Linked DNA regions of Homo sapiens: regions 1 and 3 are each linked to region 2. The links come from fine-mapping of genetic effects on gene expression. A gene starts in region 2. Each other region holds a variant in brackets. All regions are shown on one strand. Distances are between the middles of the regions.

Region 1 (8,182 bases), 36 kb before region 2:
TTATTATATTTCAGGCTAAATGTAACTTTGAGTTATCTATAAAGAAATAGTTTGCAGATAAATGTACTCCAGAACTTTTAGTGTCAATATACTTGATGTTCCCCCAGGTATTTATAGAATCCCTTATAGAATCCCAAATTCTCAAGTATTACTATAGCATGTAATTTATTCCATAAAATGTAATAAATACCCAGAGACCACAAATAAATTATAAATATAGGATTAAAGGTATGTATTGTGTATTAAGATGCTATCTGGCTGAACTATCACTTGTTTTAGATATCGTCACTTTTTATACACTCCTATCAATGATAGCCAATAGTTGTTTTTCTTTCCAGGGTGTAATGTGGGGTTTTGTCCAAAAGCTTTATTGCTTATTTGCAGAATAAAGAAAAACAAAGCTATGGCTGGGCACAGTGGTTCATGCCGGTAATCTGGCACTTAGAAGGCCAAGGTGGGAGGATCCCTTGAGGCCAGGAGTTTACCTGGGCAACATAGCAAGACTTCGTCTCTACTGAAAATTTAAAAAGAAATTAGCCAGGCATGGTGGTACATGCCTATAGTCCCAGCTACTCGGGGAGGCTGAGGTGGAAGGATTGATTGCTTGAGCCTAGGAGTTTGAGTTTACAGTGAACTATGATTGTGCCATAGCAATGCAGTCTGGGTGACAGAGGGGAAAAAAAAAAGGAAAGAAAAAGAAAGCTGCATTGGGATGCAGATACTGGGTTTCTAATATGTTCACATACTAGATGACTTATTCATCTAGACACATCTGCCTCATAGCATGATTTAAATAGCTGTCTCAGTAAATTAAAAATGATTACTGTAATGTGTGAAACATGGAATGTTAAGTTGAAGGAAAGGGGTTGATTTATAACTATTCAGGAAAACTATTGAGGTACATTATAAACCCATTTGTATATATGATCTGGCCTTTGCCTTCCTTTCTGATCTCATTTCATGTTTCTCTTCTCCTAGTTGATAATCTCTAGTGACTGGCCTTCTTTCTGTTCCTTGACCATGCACAATTCATTCCCACCTGAGAATCTTTATACTTGGCTGTTCCCTCTGTCTTAAAAACTCTATTGCCATGGATTTCCACAATGCGGACCCCTTCTTAACCCTCACACTTCAGCTCAGATGTCACCTCCTCAAAGGTGACCCAATCACGATGTGGGCTCCTTCTTGATCTTTACACCTCAGCTCAGATGTTGCTTCCTCAAAGGTGACCCAATCACGATGTGGGCTCCTTCTTGATCTTTACACCTCAGCTCAGATGTTGCCTCCTCAAAGGTGACCCAATCACCGTATATCTAAAGCAGCTCTCTAAGCACTAATTCTTTTTGTTTTAGACGAGGTCTCACTCTGTCACCCAGGCTAGAGTGCAGTAGTACAATCACAGCTCATTGCAACCTTGACCTCCTGGGCTCAGGCCATCCTCCCACCTCAGCCTCCTGAGTAGCTGGGGCCACAGGTGTGTGCCATCATACCAAGCTAATATTTTAATTTTTTGTAAAGACAGGGTCCCACTATGTTGCCCAGGCTGATCTCAAACTCCTGGGCTTAAGCAATACTCTGGCCTCAGCCTGAGCTGAGTAATTCCAAAGTGCTGGAATTACAGGCGTGAGCCACCATGCCTGGTGGAGTAACTATTTTTTTGAGCCAGGGTCTCACTGTGTCGCCCAGGCTGGAGTGTCTCCTGGGCTCAAGCAGTCCTCCCGCTTCAGCCTCCCAAGTAGCTGTGACTAAAGACACACCTCATCACACTCAGCTAATTTTTTTGTATTTTTAGTAGGGGTCTCGCCATGTTGCCCAGGCTGGTCTTGAACTCCTGGGCTCAAGCAATCCACCTGCCTCAACCTCCCAAAGTGCTAGGATTACAAGCCTGAGCCACCACGCCTGGCTGAGTAACTCCTACCAGTTGTAATTTTATTTTTTCATGTTACTCATTATTACCTGAAATTCTTGTTCTTGTTCTCTCTCTCTCTCTCTCACACACAAACACACACACACACACACACAAATCCTAATGACCATTCAGTTTTGATTTTTGTTTGCTTAGAGACAGGTTCTCACTCTCTCACCCAGGCTGGAGTGCAGTGGCATGATTACAGCTCACTGTAATCTCGGACTAGTATAGTTTACTATAATCTTGAACTCCTGGGCTCCAGCAATCCTTGCTCCTCAGCCTCCTAAGAAGCTGGCACTACAGGTGGATAGCTGGGATTACAGGTGTGCACCACCTTGCCCAGCTAATTAAAAAAAAAATTTTTTTTTTGTAGTGATGGAGTCTTACTATGTTGTACAGGCTGGTCTTGAACTCCTGGCCTCAAGTGATCCTCTTGCCTCATCCTCCCAAAGTGCCAGAATTACAGGCGTGAGCCACTGTGAGGGCCTGGCCATTTCAGTTTTGTTAATTAGCATCTACAATAGTGCTTGATATATATAGTAGACACTCTGTAAGTGTTTATTCAGTGACTCAACATGTTTTATTACAGTTACACAACTATTAAGTTAAAATTGTAGGCTGGGCGCAGTGGCTCACGCCTGTAATCCCAGCACTTTGGGAGGCCGAGGCAGTGGATCACGAGGTCAGGAGTTCGAGACCAGCCTGACCAACATGGTGAAACCCCGTCTCTACTAAAAATACAAAAATTAGCCAGGCCTGGTGGCGCGTGCCTGTAATCCCAGCTACTTGGGAGGCTGAGACAGGAGAATCGCTTGAATCCAGGAGGCAGAGGATGCAGGAGCCGAGATTGCGCCATTGCACTCCAGCCTGGGCAACAGAGTGAGACTTTGTCTCGATAAATAAATAAATAAGTAAATAATAAAATAAAATATTTTTTTTTTGAGACGGAGTCAAAATTTTAATTCTAGGCCAGGCGTGGTGGCACGTACCTGTAATCCCAGCTACTAGGGAGGCTGAGGCACAAGAATCACTTGAACCTGGGAGGCCGAGTTTGCAGTGAGTCGAGATCACGCCACTGCACTCCAGCCTGGGTGACAGAGCAAGAGACTGTCTCAAAAAAAAAAAAAATTTTTTTTTTAATTCTATAAGTACCATATGTTCATTGCGAAAACAAATCAAGCAATTTATAAATATGTGAAATATGCTGTGAAAATCTTTGGTCTTTCTACCTCCTATTCCCTACCAGCTCCATGAAGTAACAAAAATTTTATTGTTTTGTGCACTTTAAAATATTTTCTGTGGATATACAAATAAATAGCTCTGTGTATATGTGTGTGTGTGTCATATTGTTTGTTCTGATAGTGTACAAGCCATTTTTTCCTGTAATTTAGCTTTTTCTCTCAACAATATATCAATAATATCCTTCAATGTCAATACATGCAGATTTAATACATTAAAAATAGCTGTGTAGTTTTCTACAGTATCAGTATACAATCATGTATTTAACTATTCCTATACTGCTGGGCATTTCGATTATTTCCAGGTTTTTTTTTCTTGGGTGAGGAGTGTGGGTTTTCTCTCTCTCTCTCTCAATTTCTTCCTCTTTCCACAAATCATGTTGCAGTGAACATCTTTGCACACATGTCCCTCAGCAGTTATTTGCGTATTTACATGTGATGGGATAGATTTATGAAAGTAGAAAA[G/A]CTGAGGATATTTTTGTGCCTTTAAATTTTTGATAGGTACCTCAAATTGTTCCCACAATGCTAATGCTAGTTTCTATTTCCATCACTGGCACATGGATGAAGATTATCCCCTCCACCCTCAACATCAGTGAGTAGTATTCATTTTTTTTTTTTTTTTTTTTTAATTGAGATGCAGTCTTGCTCTGTCGCCCAGGCTAGAGTGCAGTGGCGTGATCTCGGCTCACTACAAGCTCCACCTCCTGGGTTCACGCCATTCTCCTGCCTCAGCCTCCCAAGTAGCTGGGACTACAGGCGCCCGCCCCCACACCTGGCTAATTTTTTGTATTTTTAGTAGAGACGTGATTTCACCTTGCTAGCCAGGATGGTCTCGATCTCCTGACCTCGTGATCTGCCCGCCTCGGCCTCCCGAAGTGCTGGGATTACAGGCATGAGCCACCGCGCCCAGCCAGTAGTATTCATATTTTTAACATTTGCCAGTATGATAGGCAAAATGGAGTCTGGTGGTGGTGTTGATTTTTTCTTTTTTTTTTAGAGGCAGGGTCTCGCTATGTTGTCCAGGCTGAACTCAAACTCCTGGGCTCAAGTGACCCTCTTGCCTCAAGTCTCCTGAGTAGCTGGGACTACAGGCCACTGTTCGCGGCAAGTACCGTGTTGTTTTAATTTCCATTATCTAGTCAGTTCTGACTTTGAATGTCTTTTCTTTATAAACATATATATAAATATATTTATTTATTTATTTATTTATTTTTTTTGAGACGGAGTCTGGCTCTGTCGCCCAGGCTGGAGTGCAGTGGCATGATCTTGGCTCACTGCAAGCTCCGCCTCCCGGGTTCCCGCCATTCTCCTGCCTCAGCCTCCTGAGTAGCTGGGACTACAGGCGCCCGCCACCACGCCCGGCTAATTTTTTGTATTTTTTAGTAGAGACGGGGTTTCACCGTGTTAGCCAGGATGGTCTCGATCTCCTGACCTCGTGATCCGCCCACCTTGGCCTCCCAAAGTGCTGGGATTACAGGCGTGAGCCACCATGCCCGGCCCATATATTTATATATATATATATATATTTGTGTGTGTGTGTGTGTGTGTGTGTGTGTGTGATGGTGGTCTGACTTTGTCACCCAGGCTGGAGTGCAGTGACACAATCTCAGCTCACTGCAACCTCGACCTCCTGGGCTTAAGTGATCCTCCCACCTCAGCCTCCCAAGTACTTGGGACTACAGGCACGCACCACCACACCCAGGTAATATTTTTTATTTTTTGTAGAGATACGGTTTCACCATGTTGCCCAGGCTGGTCTTGAACTCCTGAGCTCGAGCAATCTGCCCATGTCGGCCTCCCAAAGTGCTTAGGACTACAGGCATGAGCCACTGGGCCCAGCTGAACATCTTTTTATATACTAGTCATTTAGGTTTCATCTTTTGGAAATTGACCAAACACATTTTTAACCTATTTTTCTACTAGATTTATCTTTTTCTTACTGAATTATAGGTACTTTTTAATATCCCTAATAATTATCAATATTGAAAATGCTATTATATTGTTGTTGTAATTATCATTTATTAACCACATAGTAGGCTCTTTACATGCATTATCTCATTTCCAGCTCACAAGTAGATGTTATTATCCTTATTTTAAGATAAAGAAACTGAGGCTCAGTTATGTAAAGTATTCAAATATAGTGAGCAGGTATTCTTTTTTTTTTTTTTTTTTTTTTAGCAGTGCTACCCCATAGGCAGTGTGCCTGGAGTAGCAGTTGTGAACAGGCATCCTTAAACACTGTTGCTGAGACAGGCAGTTTGTCAATAGCTATCACAATATTCAATGTGTATTTCTTTGTCCCACCTATTCTATATTTAGGAGTTTTTCATACATGGACAAAGATGGTAGAGCAAGTATTTCACTGCAACATAGCTTATACAAAAGACTGCAACAATCTAAGTGTCTATCAGCAGTGGACTAGCTAAATATATTAATAAATACTATGCATTGAGGAAAAACAATGAGGTGGAACTTCCCTCTGTGTGTTGAAATGGAATAATTTGCAAGATATATGAAGTGTAGAAAAAGCAAAGTGAATATTTATATGTACATATATGCATAGAGTATTTCTGGTGATAGCTGTTACTTCTGGGCAAGGGAGCTGGGGTATAGGGTGAGAAAGACTTTTCTATTTTTATTTATTTATTTATTTTTTTGAGACGGAGTCTCGCTGCATCCCCCAGGCTGGAGTGCAGTGATTGGATCTCGGCTCACTGCAACCTCCACCTCCCGGGTTCAAGCGATTCTCCTGCCTCAGCCTCCCAAGAAGCTAGGACTACAGGCACATGCCACCACACCCGGCTAATTTTTTTATTTTTAGTAGAGTCAGGGTTTCACCATATTGGCCGTGCTGGTCTGGACTCCTGACCTTGTGATCCGCCTGCCTCACCCTCCCAAAGTGCTGGGATTACAGGCGTGAGCCACCGTGCCCGGCCAAGACTTTTGTTTTTATACTTGTTGGTTTTTTTAAATCTTGTGTACATTTTTAATACTCTTTCTGTTAAAATACTGATTATTTTCTCCTTAAAAAATGCAAACAGAAAAATGCACTCATGTTTGTAGTAGCATTATTTATAATAGCCAAAAGGTGGAAGCAACCTAAGTGTTCACTGAGAGATAATTGGATAAACAAACAAAAAAGAAGCTAATGAAGTAGAGGGGAAGGGCAGAAGGAAAGGGGAGGCAGAGAAGAGGAAGAAGCAGAAGACTTAAGTCATGTTAGTCAGACCCTGGCAATCTGATCACAGTTTCCACATTGAAATTTAATGCAGTTTTCAAAACTGATATATTTTCTCTTAGTTTGTTTCTTGTCTTTTTACCTTATTCGTGGTTACCAAATGGTATTTAAAAATTTTTGTTAGTCAAATCTTTATGGTTTCAGTGTTTTGTATTTTACATAGAAGGTCTTAGGTACTAGATTGTAAAAATAGTCTTATCTTCTTAATTAAAAATTTTAAGTCTATACTCTTAATTCATCTGGAGTTTATTTTTACATGTGTCATGAGGCGCAGGTATCATGTCTTTTTTTTTTTTCTTTAATTGGTTAGCCATTTATTGAAAAGTCTCTTTTTCCTACTGTTTGTAAATGCCACCTGCTAAACTCCTGGATATGCATGGGTAGGTTCCTGGATGGTCAGTTTCTTTCTGTTTGTTGTTCTTTCTATAAATTTCAGCTTCAATATCATGCTGCTTTAATTTTCTTTAACTTTAGAATTTATTTTGATATCAAGAAAAATCCTCTCTCCTTTTTCAAAATATTTGTGGGCATTTACTCTTCAGAGAAACTTGAGAATCATTTTATCAAATTATCTTAATATATCTTGCAAATTATTCCACTTCAGCACATACAGGTAAGTTCCACCTTGTTTTCCTCAATGCATAGTATTAATATATTTAGCTAGGCCACGGCTGACGGACACTTAGGTTGTTGCAATCTTTTGTACAAGCTGTGTTGCTCCACCATCTTTGTCCATGTATGAAAAAACTCCTAAATATTACATTTGTGAATTGATTTGGAGAGAAGTTATAGCTTTATAATAATGAATCTTATGAGAAGACGTATTCATATTTTTTATGTCCTTCAGTAGAATTCCATAGTTTTAATTCCTATAAGACCTTGTATATTTCATGTATAAAGATTTATTTCTGAGTAATTCTTAAATTGACACATTATAATTATACTTATTCATGGGGTACAATGCTATGTTTTGATACATATATATACGTTGTGTAATGATCAAACCAAGGTGATTAGCATATCAATCACTCAAACATTATTTATTTATAGTGAGAACATTAAAAATCTTCTCTTCTAGCTATTTTGAAATACAGTCATGCATCACATAATGACTGGGATATATTCTGAGAAATGCAACATTAGGCAATCGTTGTTGTGTGAACATCATAGAGTGTGCTTACACAAACCTAGATGGTATAGCCTACTACATACATAGGCTATATGGTTTAGCCTATTGCTCCTAGGCGACAAACCTGCTCAGCATATCACTGTACTGAGTGCTGCAGGCAGTTGGAACACAATGGTAAGTATTTGTATATCTAAACATAGAAAAAGTACAGTAAAAATACAGTGTAAAATATAAGAAATGATACAGGTGTATAGAGCATTTATCATAAATGGAGCTTGCAGGACTGCAAGTTTTTCTGGATGAGTCAGTGAGTGACTGATGAGTGAATGTGAAGGCCTAGGACATTACCGTACACAACTGTAGATTTTTTGTTGTTGTTGTTATTTGTTGTTGTTGGGTTTGTTGTTTTTTTGCTTTTTTTTTTTTTGAGACGGAGTCTCACTCTGTCACTGAGGCTGGAGTGCAGTGGCACCCTGTCGGCTCACTGCAACCTCCGTCTCCTGGGTTCAAGCAATTCTCTTGCCTCAGCCTCCTGAATAGCTGGGATTACAGGAGCCCACCACCATGCCCGGCTAGTTTTTATATTTTTTACTAGAGATGGGGTTTCACCATGTTGGCCAGGCTGGTCTCAAACTCCTGACCTCAGGTAATCCACCCGATTCGGCCTC
Region 2 (8,182 bases):
AAGTGCTGGGATTACAGGTGTGAGCCACTACAACGGGCCCATTTTTAAAAATGTAGTATGTGGGCCAGTTGTGGTGGCTTACGCCTGTAATCCCAGCATTTTTGGAGTACTTTCAAACCACGAGGTCAGGAGTTTGAGACCAGCCCGGCCAACATGGTGAAACCTTGTCTCTACTAAAAATACAAAAATTAGCCGGGCGTAGTGGCACACACCTGTAATCCCAGCTACTTGGGAGGCTGAGGCAGGAGGATCACTTGAGCCCAACAGACAGAGGTTGCAGTGAGCTGAGATTACGCTACTGCACTCCAGCCTGGGCAACACAGCGAGACTCCGTCTCAAAAAAAAAAATGCAGTATGTGTGTATATGTGTGGAGTGGGAGTGTGTATACATATGTGGTGGCTGGTTGGTGTTTGGTGGTGGGAGTGTGTGTGGGTGTGAGGAGAAATGGGAATATATGTTGGGGGTGGGAGACTGACATCGTGTACATGTGGAGCAGGAGGAGGGTGTATGTTATGATGGGAGTACTGACGGGGAGATGACAGTGTGTCAAGAGTGTAAGAGGGGTGAGTGTGCACCTGATGCTGGTGGGAATGGAGGGGAAAGTTCTGTGAATGATGGGTAGCAGGTGAAGACATGCCAAGTGTTTGTGGTAAGTGAAGCTGAGCATATCTGTTGGGAACCAAGGCAAGTATGTGGAGATGTTTTTGTGACAGGAGGAAAGGGATGTACTGACATGAAGCGAATACGTGTACCGAAAAATCTGGAAGAACATACATTACCCCTTATAGACTTGTCGAATGGCTCAGCTATAATTTTAAAACCTTATTAGGGAAAGGCTCACTGAACACAATATTCATGTAATAACTTTAGATTCACTGAGGATCTCAAAAGATGGACATCTTCAATCACTGAATCTTTGCAGCAAAATAAACATGTTTTAAAGTTGTATTTCCCTTTTTATATCGTCCTGCTATAAAATGGTTGCTGTAAAATAGCCTTCATTTTACACAGGTGTGATGAATTATAGCTATTTCTTCAGTGAAACAAAATGTTTAGCTGAAAAGTGATCTTAAGAGAAAAACACTGCCAGATAACCTCCTGAACCCCATTTCAAGATTTTCTAAAAAAAAATTTTTTGAGAAACAGGGTCTCACTCTATCACCAGGCTGGAGTGCGGTGGGACGATCATGGCTTACTGCAGCCTCAACCTGCTGAGCTCAAGCGATGTCCCACCTTAGCCGCTGGGTGGCCACCTTAGTGCTGGGACCACAGGCGTGTGCCACCATGCCTGGCTAATTTTTAAAAGTTTGGGTGGAGATTGGGTCTATGTTGCCCAAGCTGGTCTCAAAATCTTGGCTTCAGGCAATCCTCCCTAAGTGCTGGGATTACAAGTGTGAGCCAAATCTGGTATCTAAATTTTTTTTTTTTTTTTTTTGAGATGGAGTCTCACTCTGTTGCCCAGGCTGCAGTGCAATGGCGCAATCTCGGCTCACTGCAACTTCCGCCTCCCAAAGCGATTCTCCTGACTCAGCTTCCCAAGTAGCGGGAATTACAGGCACGCACCACCACACCCGGCTAATTTTTGTATTTTTAGTAGAGACGGCGAGGTGGCTCACGCCTGTAATCCCAGCACTTTGGGAGGCCGAGGTGGGTGGATCACTTGAGGTGAGGAGTTCCAGACCAGCCTGACCAACATGGTGAAACCCGTCTCTACTAAAAAAATACAAAATTAGCTAGGCGTGGTGGCGCATGTCTGTAATCCCAGCTACTCAGGAGGCTGAAGCAGGAGAATCACTTGAACCCGGGAGGCAGAGGTTGCAGTGAGCCGAGATCGCTCCATTGCACTCCAGGCTGGGCAACAGAGCAAGACCCTCTCTGCCCGATAAAAATAAAAAATTTTAAAAATTAAAAAACAAAACAAAAAACTGTTAAGATGACAGCAAGAGGGGAAGGAAAAAAAGGACCTGCCATTTAAATTCACATAGTATCATACAAAGCTTAAAATAAATGGTTTGATTTAATGACAAAGTCTTCATAAGAAAAAAGGACAGTTTACTTAGGCTAAAAATGTTTATACATGCCAGAAAAATGAGAAGACAACAGAATTTTTAAAATATTTTAATTTGTATATATAACTTCAAATTTAGAACACTCAGTATGAACAAGAACTATTCTCTGACAAAGATGTGAAATGGGGGAGTGAATTACTGTACAGGTGCATATCAACCTCTCCATGCAATTTACATCTGTATCTTATGCAATGAGAAACTGGTTTACACAGCTCCGTAACTGCAGTATTTTTTAACACCCCATTTTGCAGTCTCAGAATACTTTTCAATTAAACTGGTCGACATGTTTAAAGATGAGAAATAAGATGTTTGCATTGTAAAGTTGAGTAATAGCTAATAAATGCACACTTCCTTCCATTAATATAAATCTGGAACAATTTATGGTAAACAAAAATCTATCCGCGTTATCAGTAATCTAACAGTGCATACTTTTACTGAACACTTCCTGTGAGCCAGGCCTCGTAGTAAACATCTGAACATGCAATTTCACATTCAGTGTGGAATAAGAAGTGTCATAGGTTCGCGTGTTTTTCACAACTGATTATGATGTCCATGATGACAGCGTGCACTAAGCGCTGTGTCCAACCAACCCTTTACCTGGCATTTTAGCCAGCAAGACCCGCTTGCATTGCAGTCGTTCACGGTGCTCGCTGGCACAATTTTAGAATGTTACATGAATACTCAGGCCTGACTAACCTTCCCCTCCAAAAAACAACAAAACAGAACAAGGCTAAGCCTTTACTACTCAGAGACACATCTGTAAGACCCCACAGGGACAAGAAAAGTAGCTGTGATCTAGGTCTGCACTAAAGCTGCCTTTCCTGGCACTCAGAAGTGCCCTTCCAGGCCTAACTGCAGAAGGGTGGCCTCAGCCTCCTCCTCCTCCTCCTTGGCTTCCTCCTCACGGATCTGCACCAGCAACTGAAAGAGGTTTGGGGCTGGCCCTTCCCCAGCCCCGGTAAGCCACAGCTGCCTTCGGATGGCCCCGCTGTGGTTGGCCCCGGCAATGACCTGCTCTAGGCGGGCCTGGTTCACATTATCTTTATCAATGGCCCCCTTCTCTACCACCTTCTGTAGCAGAGGCTCCAGACGAATGACATAAGCAGACAATTTTTCTCCCGGGTTCTGATAAGTGTTCAGAAATTTGATCTGGGCATCCCTAGAGCTCTCAACGCTCCCAAACACCTGCTCAAGCGCCTTCAGGCATTCGGCAGTGGTTATCGCGGGGTTGTTGGACTTAAGGATGCGAATAACATCAGCGGCGGGGCCTCTAAGACTCTCCATCAACCGCCGCCTCTTTTCTACATCGGACACCTGCCACTCCTCTAGGACCTCATTAGTGTGCTCCAGCCAGGGATCAAAGGTTTCCTCTCCAGGCCCTGGGATGTCCCTCCCCGAGAAAAGTGTCAGCCTCTTGTACCATATGGACTCAACAAGAGGCTGAATAACATTATCCAAAATATAGTTTAGCATCTCTGCTGGCATCTCTGGGCCCGGGGTCGGAGTAGGGTTCTGAAACCCAAGGACACGGGCAACATCTTGCACGGTCCACCCCTCTCTAGCTAGGAAGAGGTGCAATCTTTCTAAAAATTCAGCATCAGAAGTTGGGGGCTTAAATAACACTTTCCAGACCCCTCCTTTGCCCGGCATCTCCCTGGGGATCGCGGCGTAATCTACAGCGCCAGTGAGCTCTAATAAGGCTGCTTTCGCATTTTCTTCCCTCCAGAACATTCTCCCAAGCATTCGGTAGGAGACCTGGGGCATCGCAGCCTGGAGGGTCTCTTCGATTTCAGCCTCATCACAGTTCACTGGGATGCCCCAGACTAACAGAGCTCTCTGGGAGTTCACATCCATCCCCCGGCACCAGTCTTCCAACAGTGTCATCGCCATTTTCTCAACTATCAAGACGCCAAATTCTACCAACAGACTGTGGCTCACCGTGCTCCTGGCCTTAGAACAATACCAGACACTCCCACCAAGTAGGCCCGAGGGAGGCGACCTTCATGCAGTCACGATTAACAAAGACAGAGTCCTGATCTCGCCCTTCTCTGCCCCCACAGTCAGTCCGTAGGTGCACTCGGAGCCGAGCTCGGGGACGCTGAGGCAGTCACGCGGCCGTCGCCATCTTGCGTCTGGGTCTGGGTCCGGTCGGGTCCGCCGCCTGCAGCAGGGGCGTCGCGTCGTCGTGCAGCGGGCGAGGAGCGACGGCGGGCGGCGAAGGCAGGCGCGCTGGGCCGAGAGCCGCCGGGGTGTGGTCGCGGGGCGTGGCCGCCGGGCGCTCGCTGCGGCTCCTGGAGAGGATCGGGCGTTCGCGGTCGCAGCCTGGTCTTCCCGCGGGCGAGGAGCGGCCGTTTGGGAGACTAGCCAGAGGGAGAAACTGTGCCGAAGTCGCGGCGGCTGCGGGCCAGCGGAAAGCGGCTTCTTGGCGGGCGCGGGGACTCCTCTGGGCGGGCGGCGAGGACGGCCGAGGACCAGAAACGAAGGCAGCAGAGGAGCAGGAAAGTCGGAGAAGCGAGGCTGGAGACAGCAGAGGCGAGGGTGGGAAGGGGCGGCCGCGGCGGCCCGCAGCGGTTCAGGCGCTGCGCGGCTGCTCTGGCGTCCAGTCCTACCCGCAACCCGCCGCGACGTTACTGCTGCAGTGGAGGATGGGGCCAGCCGGCGAGCGGCGTCCGCCCCGCCCCGCCCCGTCCCGCCCCCGCGGCGGAGCTGCTCGGGCGTCTCCATGGCAACGGTGTCCCAGCCGGCGCGAGGCACGCCTGCTCCGGCGGCTCGCGGGGGTCGAGCGGTTGCCGTGGAGCCAGCGAGGGGCTCGGGCATTTGTTTCTCTGATGGCGCATTTCCTTTTTCATAATTTAGCATTTTAACAGTAAACAACTACTACTAAGCACCGTGTTTTAAAAATAATAACCCAATCCTGGAGTGGATTTAAGATGATATTGTTGGAAATGCATCCCTCATGGTGGACTTGTCTACTCGGGTTGCTCAGCCAGTCCACCCTGCACGTGAAAATACTCTCCTCAGAACCCTGGCTTCCCGTTGCCCCTGACCACACTGTGCACCCTGCATATTTCATCCCAATGAAGCCAAAATGTCGGAGTGCGCCATTTCTGTGTATTTGTGTGAGACACTGAGTTTAGACTTTTTCTTGTCTAAAATTTTGTAAAAATCTGTCTGTGTCTACTGAGTCATCTTTTAGCCAGGCAAACATTAGTGTATTATTTTCCTTTTCCTGGCTGGCATCATTGACAATAGGCTGCTAAAAGAGAATCCTTATGGTTCAAAAATGTCGAGTAATCTCCCTGCAAGCAAGACAAGGCGCACTTACATCAACCCCAGATGGTGAAAATCCCAAGAGAACAAAGCATTCAACTCTGAATTTTTAAAACCTTATTTAATAAAAGGTTTAAAGATACAGAAGAACATTCAAAAGTAAATAAGTTACATAGGTACATTACAATCACATCAGCAAGATTCTTTAGTGTATTAATTTTTTTCTTATAAAAAGCACACAAAAAATAAAATCTTCAGTCTCTATCACAACTGTACAGCAAAAGAGGTAATATTTATATATGTACACTATTTTAATATGTAACAGTCTTTTTAAAAAAGGATGCCACAGGCAGCAAACACACAAAAGGCAGTGTCTGATCATTTTTGTTTCAAAATAAAAGGAATATACTTATTTATATGCTATTAAAATATCTGTACAATAATTACAGACTGTCAAGGCTGTTCCTGTGCTCTGTCCCCTCCAACAAAGCCTTCAACTTAGAGACAAATGAGGAAAAAGTGAAACAGCTGCAAATTGTTAGAAGCAAATATTAACATAGCAAAATGTGGGGAGGACACAATTGTTTTATAAAAATATCCCTACTTCCTGTAAACCTATGGAGTTAGGCTTGCCAGTCTGATAATAAATACCGTCCCAGAAAAGCGAGCCCCAGTGAAAACAACTAAACAGGCTGAGGCTTGAGTATGTGTTGTATTCCTCCTTCATCTTAACATCTGGCACATGAGAAGAAAGAGGTTAGGTCACTGAGGCAGTTAAATATAGGTGATCCCTTTAGACATAAGCAGCAGAAGACCTTGGTGCCAGGGGTGGAGGCGCGGCAGAAGGGGTGGTATGTACCTTAGCTGTGAGGGGGGCTGCTGAAGGCATGGAGGACAGTAATGACGGCTGTGCCTCCTTGGATGGTGGAGACCTCAGAAATGGTCTGCAACACAGGCACTAGGTCAGTTTCCCGCCCTTAGCTGAATGCAGATGGATGCTGGGAGATGGATATGGTGAGATGGTGTGGGGAGGATGTTAGAAAGCTGGAGGTGTTTATCACTTCTCAAGGAGCTCTGAATATAGGGGGAAAAAAACAACAAAAAGACAAGCCCAGGGAGAAAGCACCATTAAGGATATACCTATGCCAGCTTCTATAGCTGCACCTGCTTTATTGGCAGGTCACTTGCCACAATTGCATCTGCCCTCTAAACTTTTTAATTTTCACACTGTATCCTAGACATGAATGCATAAAATACAGTGTCTGGCGGGATAATGCAGAGAGGTACCATCTTGATTTTCCCCAGTTACATTCACCTGGTCTGGTCTCTGTAAGCTTAGAAGAGTAGAATCACTTTATTTTTTAAAGACTTCCGGCCAGGCACGGTGGTTCACGCCTGTAATGCCAGCACTTTGGGAGGCCGAGGCGGGTGGACCACCTGAGGTCAGGAGTTCAAGACCAGCCTGGCCGACATGGCGAAACCCTGTCTCTACTAAAAAAAAAAATACAAAAAGATTAGCTGGGTGTGGTGGTGTGTGCCTATAATCCCAGCTACTCAGGAGGCTGAGGCAGGAGAATTCTTTTAACCCAAGAGGCGGAGGTTGCAGTGAGCCAAGATCACACCACTGCACTCCAGCCTGGGCGACAGAATGAGACTCTGTCTCAAAAAAAAAAAAAAAAAAAAAAAAAAATTTTTTTTCCAAGTACAAGATGTTACCACTGACAAAAGGGTCTCATATGAATGATGGAGGTTTCTGTTACCGTATGCCCATAAAGGGGCCTGAAACCAAATATGATTTGAATAGAAAAGACCTTGGGAAACATAAGTAGCACTTTGGGGCTAAGCTGCGAAGGCACTCGTATTGTACAAGTAATTTCGAAGAGAGCCTAAATTTGCTACCCCCCTGCTTCTACAGGGTATACCAGATTTTTGCTGTCTTGGGACACTGAGCTCATGGAAGCCTGTGGAGGAAACTAACCGGTAAGCTGGGGATCTAGGTAGTCATCCAAGAGTCTGGAGGGAGAAGAAATTTGTTACTTCCACAGCTGGGGTCCTGTAGAACCATACTAATGTACAAATGGATGCTGAAAAATACCTGCATAGTTTCAAAACAAAACTCCCTCTCCACTCCCAGTTACTGACATGATGCTTCTTGGCTATCTCATAAGGAGTAGCAGTATGAATACTTTCTGGCTCCTTCCTAATACGTTGACCTGTCATACGCGCATTCACTTAGAATTTCTTTTGCACAACTAAAGTTGAATAAGATCAGAAAAATAGCTGAGCCCCGCTATGGGACTGGAAGTGAAGGGGCCTCCAGAACCTCCTGGCCCTTTCACTTCACCCATGCCAAATATGGCTTCTTCAAGCCAGAATCCAGGCCCCATAAACCAAACTAGAATTCTGGCCTCTTGCCAACTCTTCCCTCAGGCAAAGCACAGCCAGAGAAGGGGCAGCAAGAACTGCCTTAATCTCCCTTGCTCTGTGTGGGTCTGGTGACACCCTCCACCTTCCCACGCTCTTTCAGTGTTGCTATCATTCCTATCAGCAAGAGCTTCCAGAGCAACCAGGTGAGGGACCTTAGGGCCTTGGGAATTTAGGGGGTGGGGATAGGGGATGTCAAGATGCCTCGTTTTGGGATAAATGCACTCGGGCCTCTGAAAAGCAGGAGGCCCCTGGTCCCTGAGAGGATGTTAAAAATTAAATACTAAGAATAAATAAATAGCTCCCAAATGACACGAGTCAAGGAATGAAGGCTCCTGTCCAATCGAGTTAGGAGACCTCTCCCTCCCAGGGAAGGATCCAGAAATCTCCAAAGTGCAGGCCTGGGGGCTGGGTTGTG
Region 3 (8,182 bases), 35 kb after region 2:
GCTGGGATGAAGTGAAAAGGCCCAGCCCGGGATCCCACCCTACCCCTGGCCCCAGGCCCTCTACACCTATGTGGAACACAAGTCCTTCTCCCTGCTGGCCCACAAGCCACCTGCCCTTGACTGTCACCTGCTGCCCCACAACACATGCAGGCCAACTGGAAAAGTGCCAGCTCCACTGTTGCCCTCCACCCCACTTTTCTAGGCTTCTACCCCCACCTAGACAGTGGCCAGGGACACAAGCCTGTGGGTCTGTTTACCTCATGCCCTGACATGGCTGGACCTCAAGACACTAAGGTCTGGCCAGGATGCCAGGGAGCCATAACAAGTCCCTGCCACCCCCACCAGAGGAGCACAGCATGGCCCAGCTGGCCCCCTCATCTGGGCTCACATCCTGAAAAGCTCTCTCAGACATTCTGGGGTCTCCAGCTATAGCCAGACTCGGTAAATGGCCTGGAACTGCCATCTTGGGCCAGCTAGAGTTGCCCAGGCCCTAGACAAACCTTCCCTCTGGACCCCATCTGCAATGCTACATGCACCCCCACCAACTGGGACTTCACACAAAGGCCAGTGTACCCCATTTCTGCAAGCCACTGGACACATAAGCACTATTCTCAAGGGGTTTGCAAACAAGGAGGCTCTGATACAACAGACGTGGATCTGACTCCCACAAGTGTCATTTTCCCTGGGAGCATGAGAGAGCAGGCAAGAGGCCCTATGGTCGGCCCATTCCCAATCCAGACAGTCCCTGGACCATCACTTCTCTGGACTGAACTTCAGCTCTGAAAAGCAGAGCCCAGGCCAACAGGCCAGAGAGTCACGAGTCCCAGGGGTCTCAGCCATCAAGCTGCTCAGGATCAGAAGCTTGGCCAGGGTTCAAGCTGCCTGAAGTTTGAGCTTACACAGTAAAAATGCCAACCACTGAGATGCTTTTAAAGGGATGTGTAAGAGAGGAATCCTTTCAGGGCTTATGAGGCACTCTCAGGGCTCCGTCCAGTCTTCTACCTTGATTGCCTCCCTCCCCCATAGCCCCACAAATGCCCACAGGGTGTCCATGGGAAGCTGGGATAGCCAGGTTTGTTTTGCCAGGGGTGGGGGAGGTGGGGGCTGCTAATGCAGAGAGAAAACAGTCATGAGCAAAGCCAGAAAAGGATTAAGCCTCCAGGCTCAGCTTTTGCCTGCACTGAAGGGACTGCCTGCCTTCCTCCTAGGCAAAGGCCACGAAGAGTCACAGGCAGCCCTGGAAAACCCATTCCAACAGGACCCAGGGATCCCAGCAGGAGTAGGGTAGAAGCAGGCAGGTTTAGGCTTCCTCCGCAGGAGACTCAGCAGATGTTCCTGAGGCCCTCTGGTGAGGGCCTCCTGGGACCGCTGGGGTCCTTGCTCTGTCTCCTCAAAACAGTCTCTATGCCCTATACAGCTCCCACCACTGGAGGCTGCTGCACTACCTCCCTTCCCTTCTGGAAAGGCCTGGCTCCCCAGCAGGGCTAGAGCAGGGCTCTCTGAAGTCTGTGCCTGAGCACCCCAGTGCCAGACTCTGCCCTGGGCCAAAGATACAGATGAGGCCACTCACAGGGGCCTCCCTTGCCATTGCCTTGCCCTGCCCACTCCCCCACCACACACCCTCCCTGCTGCAGCTCTGCAGGTGGGCCTGCTGACCCTTCATCTGCTCCACAAGCATTTGCTGAGCACTTGCTGCAAGCCAGGCTCTGGGAGACACAGGAGACACAGAGCTTCCAGGCCGGTGGGGAGACAGAGAAACAGAAACACACGCTAATTATAATGCAAGGAAGCCCGTGCAGGGACTAGGGGTAAGTGACCCCTGGGGACAGGCAACCCCTGGGGGAGCTCCCTGACTTTGAGCCTCCCCTAGAGCTGTTCCTTCTGCCTGGAAGCCCTGCCTCCACTCTCACAATCTGCTTTCCCTCAAGGCCTACCTCCTCCAGCTGGCCCTCCAGCACATATTGTTGTCACCCATTCTGAATCTTCATGCTCTTATACCACTATCCAATAATGCTTCTTCAATTCCCTTCTGTTCCTGCACAGAGCCTGGGAGCAGCAGGGCCTGGAGACAACATGATCCAAGACGGAGGGCAGTGGACTGTTTGTCAGGTAACCAACCAGATGTCTGGTCCAGGAGCCGCCACTCACTGGTTCCTGCCTTTGAGGAGCTTAAGAGCCTGGGGTGGGAAGAGACCTGTATCCAGGGACCAAAGAAACACCTTTGTAAAAAGCAAGTGCCACCAGGACTAGCTGCATGCCGAATATGCGAGAGTACTGCTTATCTGCATAACCACTTATTTCCAACTGAGAAACGAGAAAGGCTGGCTCTGAAAGTAACTTGTCCCAGTTCACAGAACTCATGACTGAGGAGTCAAGATTCAAATCTAAGCCTCCTGACCCCAAACCAGGTCTCTCTCTGTCACTGTGTCAATACCCGTCTGTGTGGATGTCAAGCAGTGGTTCTTAAACCTCAGTGTGTGCAATAAAACCCACCCTGAGAGACTAGTTCATGGGTCTGGTGGGGTGGGGGTCGGGGGTGGGAAGAGCACGATGGGGAATCTAGGATGCTTCACAAGCAGCCAGGTGGTGCCCATGCACTGGAGCAGGGGAAGGGCTAAAGGGCCACAGCCTGGCATAGTGAAGTTTCCCAGGACCCACCACTCCCCATTCCCCAAAGGCACTACCTGTCAGAGTGCTATGGCCTGCCCAGGAGACATGAGGGGTCGCACAGAGCCCTGAGGGGACTCTGCTCTCAGCCAGTCCTAGGGTTAACTGTGGCTCTTACCACGCCTGGGACCCAATTGAGTGCCCATGTTTACTGAGCACTTACTATTTGCCAGGCACTGTGCTAAGTCCATTGCAGGCAGCATTTTGTTTAACCCTTACTGTTCTGTGTCTCGTTATTTACAGACCAGGAATGGTATACTCAAAAATATCTATTTAACATAAAGGAAGACAGTAATAGAAGAACAAAAGAATAAAAAAGACATAAGACATACAGAAATCAAATCACAAAATGGCAGCATAAATCCTACCTTATCCATAATTACTTTAAATGTGAATGGATTAAATATCTAAAAGGCAGAGGTTGGCAGAATGGACTTTTAAAAAAATATGCAATTATATGGCAGAACAGACTTCTTTAAAAAAGATGCAATTTCATTAAAAAAAGAAACACCCTTTACATTCAGAGATATAAATAGGTTGAAAGTAATTAGCAGGGCATGGTGACACACGCCTGCAGTCCCAGCTACTCGGGAGGCTGAGGTAGGAGAATTGCTTGAACCCAAGAGGTGGAGGTTGCAGTGAGCCCAGATTGCGCCACTGCACTCCAGCCTGGGCAACACAGTGAGACTCTGTACCAAAAAAGAAAAAAGAAAGCAAGGGATGGAAAAAGAGATACCATTGTAAACAGTCACCAAAAGACAGCTAGAATGGCTATACTAATATCAGACAAAATATGTGGTGGCAGGCACCTGTAATCGCAGCTACTCAGGAGGCTGAGACAGGAGAACTATTTGAACCTGAGAGGTGGAGGCTGCAGTGAGCCAAGATCGCGCCACTGCACTCCAGCCTGGGCAACAGAGCTAGACTCCGTCT[CAAA/C]AAAAAAAAAAAAAAAATCAGACAAAATAGACTTTAAGACAAAAACTGTTATTATAGACAAAGAATATTTTATAATGAACAAAGTGTCCGTCCCTCAGGAGGCTATACCAGTTATAGACATGCATGTACCTAACAACAGAGCCCCAAAATACATGAAGCAAAAACTGTCAGAATTGAAAGGAAAAAATGAACAACTCAAATAACAGTAGGAAACTTCAATACTCTACTTTTTTTCATGTTATTTTATACATACACATGAGAGAGAGAAAACACTCTACTTTCAACAACGAACAGTACGACTAAATAGAAGATCGACAAGGAAATAGAAGATTTAGACACTATAAACCAATTAGACCTGGAAGACCTATATAGAACACTCCACCTAACAACAGCAAAATACACACAAATACACACTCTTCTCAAGAGCACACAGATACTGCAGCTGTAGGTGAACTGTTTTTTTGTTTCTTTTTAAAAAAGAGCAGGCCCGGCACAGTGGTGCCTGTAATCCCAAAATTTTGGGAGGCCAAGGCCAGGAGGATCACTTGAGCCCAGGAGCTCAAGACCAGCCTGGGCAACAAAACGAGACCGTGTCTCTACAAAAAAAAAAAAAAAAAAAATTAGCTGCGTGTGGTGGCCACTATAGTCCCAGCTACTCAGGAAGCTGAGGCAGGAGGATTGCTCGGGCCCAGGAGGTTGAGGCTGCAGTAAGCCGTGTTCATGCCTCTGCAATCCAGCGTGCATGAAAGACCAAGATCCAGTCTCAGAAAAAATAAAAAATACATACTTTTTTATATATTATATAATATAATATATATATAAAATATATATATGTATATTTATAGCACAAGGAACACTCTCTACAATAGATCATCATTAGGCCATAAGACAAGTCTCAACAAATTTAAAGGGACTGAAATCACTCAAAGTATGTTCTCCAATCAAAACGGGTTGAAATTGGAAATCAATAACCGAAGGAAATTTGGGAAACTTACAGGAAACGAAGGTTAAAAGTAACTTGCCAAGTTCTCTCAGCTCAGAAAGGCCCCTCCCTCCTCAGCCCATGTTCTCCACACCTTCGGTGTCACAGTCCTAGGCAGCCGCAGAGCTCAGACTTGCAAAGGCCTGGGTATCCCCTCTCCCAGACACACATTGAACCTGACCCCAAGCTTGATCCCGACATCAAAACAACTAGGGGATGGAGAGGCCTTTGGGATTGCAACAGCTTGTCAGGCAGCCCTGCTTTTCCCTAGGAAAAATGGCCACAGGCAAATATTTCCACTTCCATGGCCAATCTACAAAATATCCAAAAGACAGATCCTTCCCAAAAGAAGGGAGCTAACGAGTACTTCGCTGGGCTGGGTCCTCTACAAATTCGAATCCATGCTTATAAACCTCCTATGGAGGAGTCTTATGTCCTCATTCTCCAGAGGGAAGTTGAGGCTCTGCTGTTACAGAGCCAGAAGCAAGATTCAAATCTTTATCTTGTGTCTTCCAAGTCCTTGCTCTTTCCACCACCCTCCCAGAAAAATCTGAAATCTACACCGGTGGGCCTCAGAAGGAATGCTACACTTGAGAACTTCACAAAGCCAGCTCCGGAGCTGCTGCTCTTCCCTGGGGGCATTTCCAAGCACAGCATGGTCTATTAACACTCCTCTTAAGAAATTATCCTAGCCCCAGTCAGCCAGAAACAGTTTCCCCTCCAGACTGGGGGTATCTGTAAAAGCCCCTGGAAGCCAAGAGAGCCCAAAGGGTGTTGAGGTATGGGGGACTGCAGAGGTGAGCTGGAGGCTGCAGGCTCAGCACCATCTCACTCTGGAATAAAAGCCTCCATGCCACATGGAGAAAGGTGGCTTGGGCCTCTCTTCAGAGCCAACTGGCAAAGCAGGGCCCAGCTGGGAAAGCTGAACAGATTCCAAATATCAAGGGATGTCAATGTTTACCTACTCCAATTCCTCGTTCCACAGAGCAGTCCAGAGAAGGAAATAAACTCGTCCGAGGACACACAGCCAGGAGCAAAATCAAGGACTCCAATAACAATGCTTCATGCCTCCATTTAGGCAGGCCCCACCACTTGGCAAGACACTGGGCAAAGCATGGAGCCAAGGTTTATCCCAACATCACACAAACAAGGCTTCATCAATACCTCCAAAATTTCCATTGAAGGTGCTACTATGTGCCAGGCATGGTGCTAAGCACACTACACACATTATCCTGTGTAATCATCTCACAGAAAGGTAGATATTATCATTATTATTTTTGTAGAGATGGAGTCTCACTTTGTTGCTCAGGCTGGTCTTGAACTCCTTGCCTCAAGGGATCCTCCCAACTCAACCTCCCAAAGTGCTGAGATTACAGGCGTGAGCCACCACACCAGGCCATCAAGGTAGGTATTATTACTCCTCCTTTCTAAACAAGAAATCTGAGAAGACCTTAGGTCAAATCACTTGCCTAAGGTCACAGCAGTATAGAGGCAAAGCCAGGACTGGCACCTAGGCCTGCCTGTTCTGCAAACTTCCTCCCCCAAGAGTTTCAGACTTGGAGGTCACACCAGGCTGCCTGGGATAGACAGCAGCAGCCTCTGGGTTGCTCACGTCTGCTCCCTGGAGAGCAGCTTCAGCCCCTGAAAACCACCATGATGTTCTGAGATGTGGCTGGTCGGGTAAAGTGGGTGGGAGAGGCCGGGCAGGTGAGTGGCTTTGAAGGTGAAGAGGCTACAGGTGATTACCTCCAGTGGGCCAACCTGTGGAGGGCTCGGCATCTTTGCCTAAGAGGAAGTCACACCCCTTCCACACCCTCCAACCCCACAACTGAGGTTAGCCAACAGCTCTTTAAAAATAAAGCCAGGCCGGATGCAGCGGCTCCCGTTTGTAATCCCAACACTTTGGGAGGCCAAAGCAGCTGGACCACCTGAGGTCAGGAGTTTATGAGACCAGCCTGACCAACATGGAGAAACTCTGTCTCTACTAAAAATACAAAATTATCCAGGCATCGTGGCGCACACCTGTAATCCCAGCTACTCGGGAGGCTGAGGCAGAAGAATCGCTTGAACCCAGGAGGCAGAGGTTGCAGTGAGCCAAGATCGTACCACTGCACTCCAGCCTGGGCGACAAGAGCAAAACTCTGTCTCAAAAAAATAAATAAAGTCTTGGCTCTCCCCTGCTTGTCAGATAACTCAAGTCCCCATGGAGTCTAGGCTCCTGTCCCTTCTCCTGGCACCCTGAGCTCTGGGTCAAATCAGGTCTCTGCTTGGGTTCCCCCACTCAGGACACTGAGCATTAGCCCCCAGCCACAGCCACCCATATCTCCACATGGTGCTCTCAGAGTGTTGCTTCTCCCAATAACTTAACTTCCTAAATAAAATATATTCATCGCACATCCCGAGTAGAGGAGACAGAGGTGCCCACTCACTCCAAAGATCATTTGTCCAAACCTCAATTTCATGGCTCATAGAACCAAGACCTCAAAGGTAAAATGACCTGCCTAAGGACACATGGCTGACTACCTGAGCAGAGCTATAGTGACGGCCTCCCAGGTAGATGTTCTCACACTTAGCACCCCTAGACCTGGCATTGCCAGGTCCTTGACATTCGTCTGGGGGAGGTAAAGCAGGGGGTGTAGCATGTGTGTCAAGCCTACCAAGTCTTCATCAACCCAGGCTCTCCTGACTGGTCAGGGCTGGAAAGGGCCAAGACCCACCTGGTGCTTGGGGGTTGGATGGGTCGGTGTCTGGCAGTGTAGTGTGAGAGTAAAGAACGGGGGCAATATGGCTCCCTAGTACATGCTAGCGACCAGGAAGCAAAAAAATTTGCCACCAGCAGAGGGAGGGGAGTCTCAGTGTGGCTGCCTGGGGCCTCCTAGAAGGGCTGCAAACTGGGCACAGACAGACGCCCATTTGACTCCAGAGCCATCACATCAGCCTCACGCCCTTCCTCAGGCCCTGGTCAAGATGCAAGACTTTTGCCAAAGGCTCACACATTCTTTGCATTTCTCCAGTCTCTGAGCAGCTGCTGCAGGGCCTTTTCTCCTATGTTGATTTATTCTTTATTGTTCCTGAAATACACCCAGAGGCCTTTGGCACAGCATGCGGGCACAGCAGAGCATCCAGCCCAAGCCCCAAGTACACACCAACCAGACTCTCTGGGACCTGGGCCAAGCCAGCTGGAATGATGGGCCCCAGGTCAGACCCAGCAGCCAAGAAGGGAGACCAAAGATTCCACCTAGCCCCAGCCTTTGATTCCCCAGAGCTGTTCTCAGTACCTCAGAGGCTGGGATACCTTTAAGGGGGAGGACACACTTGGGAGGTCCCCAGGAAGCCCACACTAAGCTGAAACCAAGCCTTTCCCCTCTTCCTGTGCATGTGCCTGGCCGAGCAGTCCCCAGGCCCACAGCTGAGTCCTCCACAGAAGGGCCTCAGGGCTCAAGGCTGGGCTCCTGGCTGCCCTGTGAAGCATCTGGAGAGGGAGGCAGCAGGGAGGTCTTCCCCACCCTTCCCAGCCCAAGATATCTCCCCTACCAGCCAGTCTAATGGTGCCTGAATTCCTACTATCAGCACTTCATACCAAGGATCAAAGCATTG

The links.
Region 1: its variant is fine-mapped to the expression of PNMA1 in whole blood (TOPMed, PIP 0.97).
Region 3: its variant is fine-mapped to the expression of PNMA1 in whole blood (INTERVAL, PIP above 0.99).

The regions. Positions count from the first base shown.
Region 1 is chr14:73,673,211-73,681,392 of GRCh38, forward strand. The region is part of intron 5 of DNAL1 (dynein axonemal light chain 1); the gene reads left to right. Among named protein-coding and RNA genes, the nearest start is that of DNAL1, 32 kb to the left of the region's middle. The variant G/A (reference allele first, on the strand shown) is at 3,613.
Region 2 is chr14:73,709,680-73,717,861 of GRCh38, forward strand. PNMA1 (PNMA family member 1) reads right to left here and starts at 4,705. Exons shown (of 1, transcript NM_006029.5): 1 at 2,104-4,705. The coding sequence starts at 3,960. The coding sequence ends at 2,899. MIDEAS (mitotic deacetylase associated SANT domain protein) reads right to left here. Exons shown (of 13, transcript NM_001367710.1): 13 at 5,443-8,182. RefSeq lists enhancers at 4,101-4,160, 5,101-5,170 and silencers at 4,251-4,420, 4,601-4,880.
Region 3 is chr14:73,745,168-73,753,349 of GRCh38, forward strand. The region is part of intron 1 of MIDEAS (mitotic deacetylase associated SANT domain protein); the gene reads right to left. It overlaps LOC124903345 (a long non-coding RNA gene), which reads left to right. Exons shown (of 3, transcript XR_007064264.1): 3 at 2,044-2,278. Among named protein-coding and RNA genes, the nearest start is that of MIR4505, 9.5 kb to the right of the region's middle. RefSeq lists enhancers at 1,295-1,809, 1,810-2,323. The variant CAAA/C (reference allele first, on the strand shown) is at 3,601.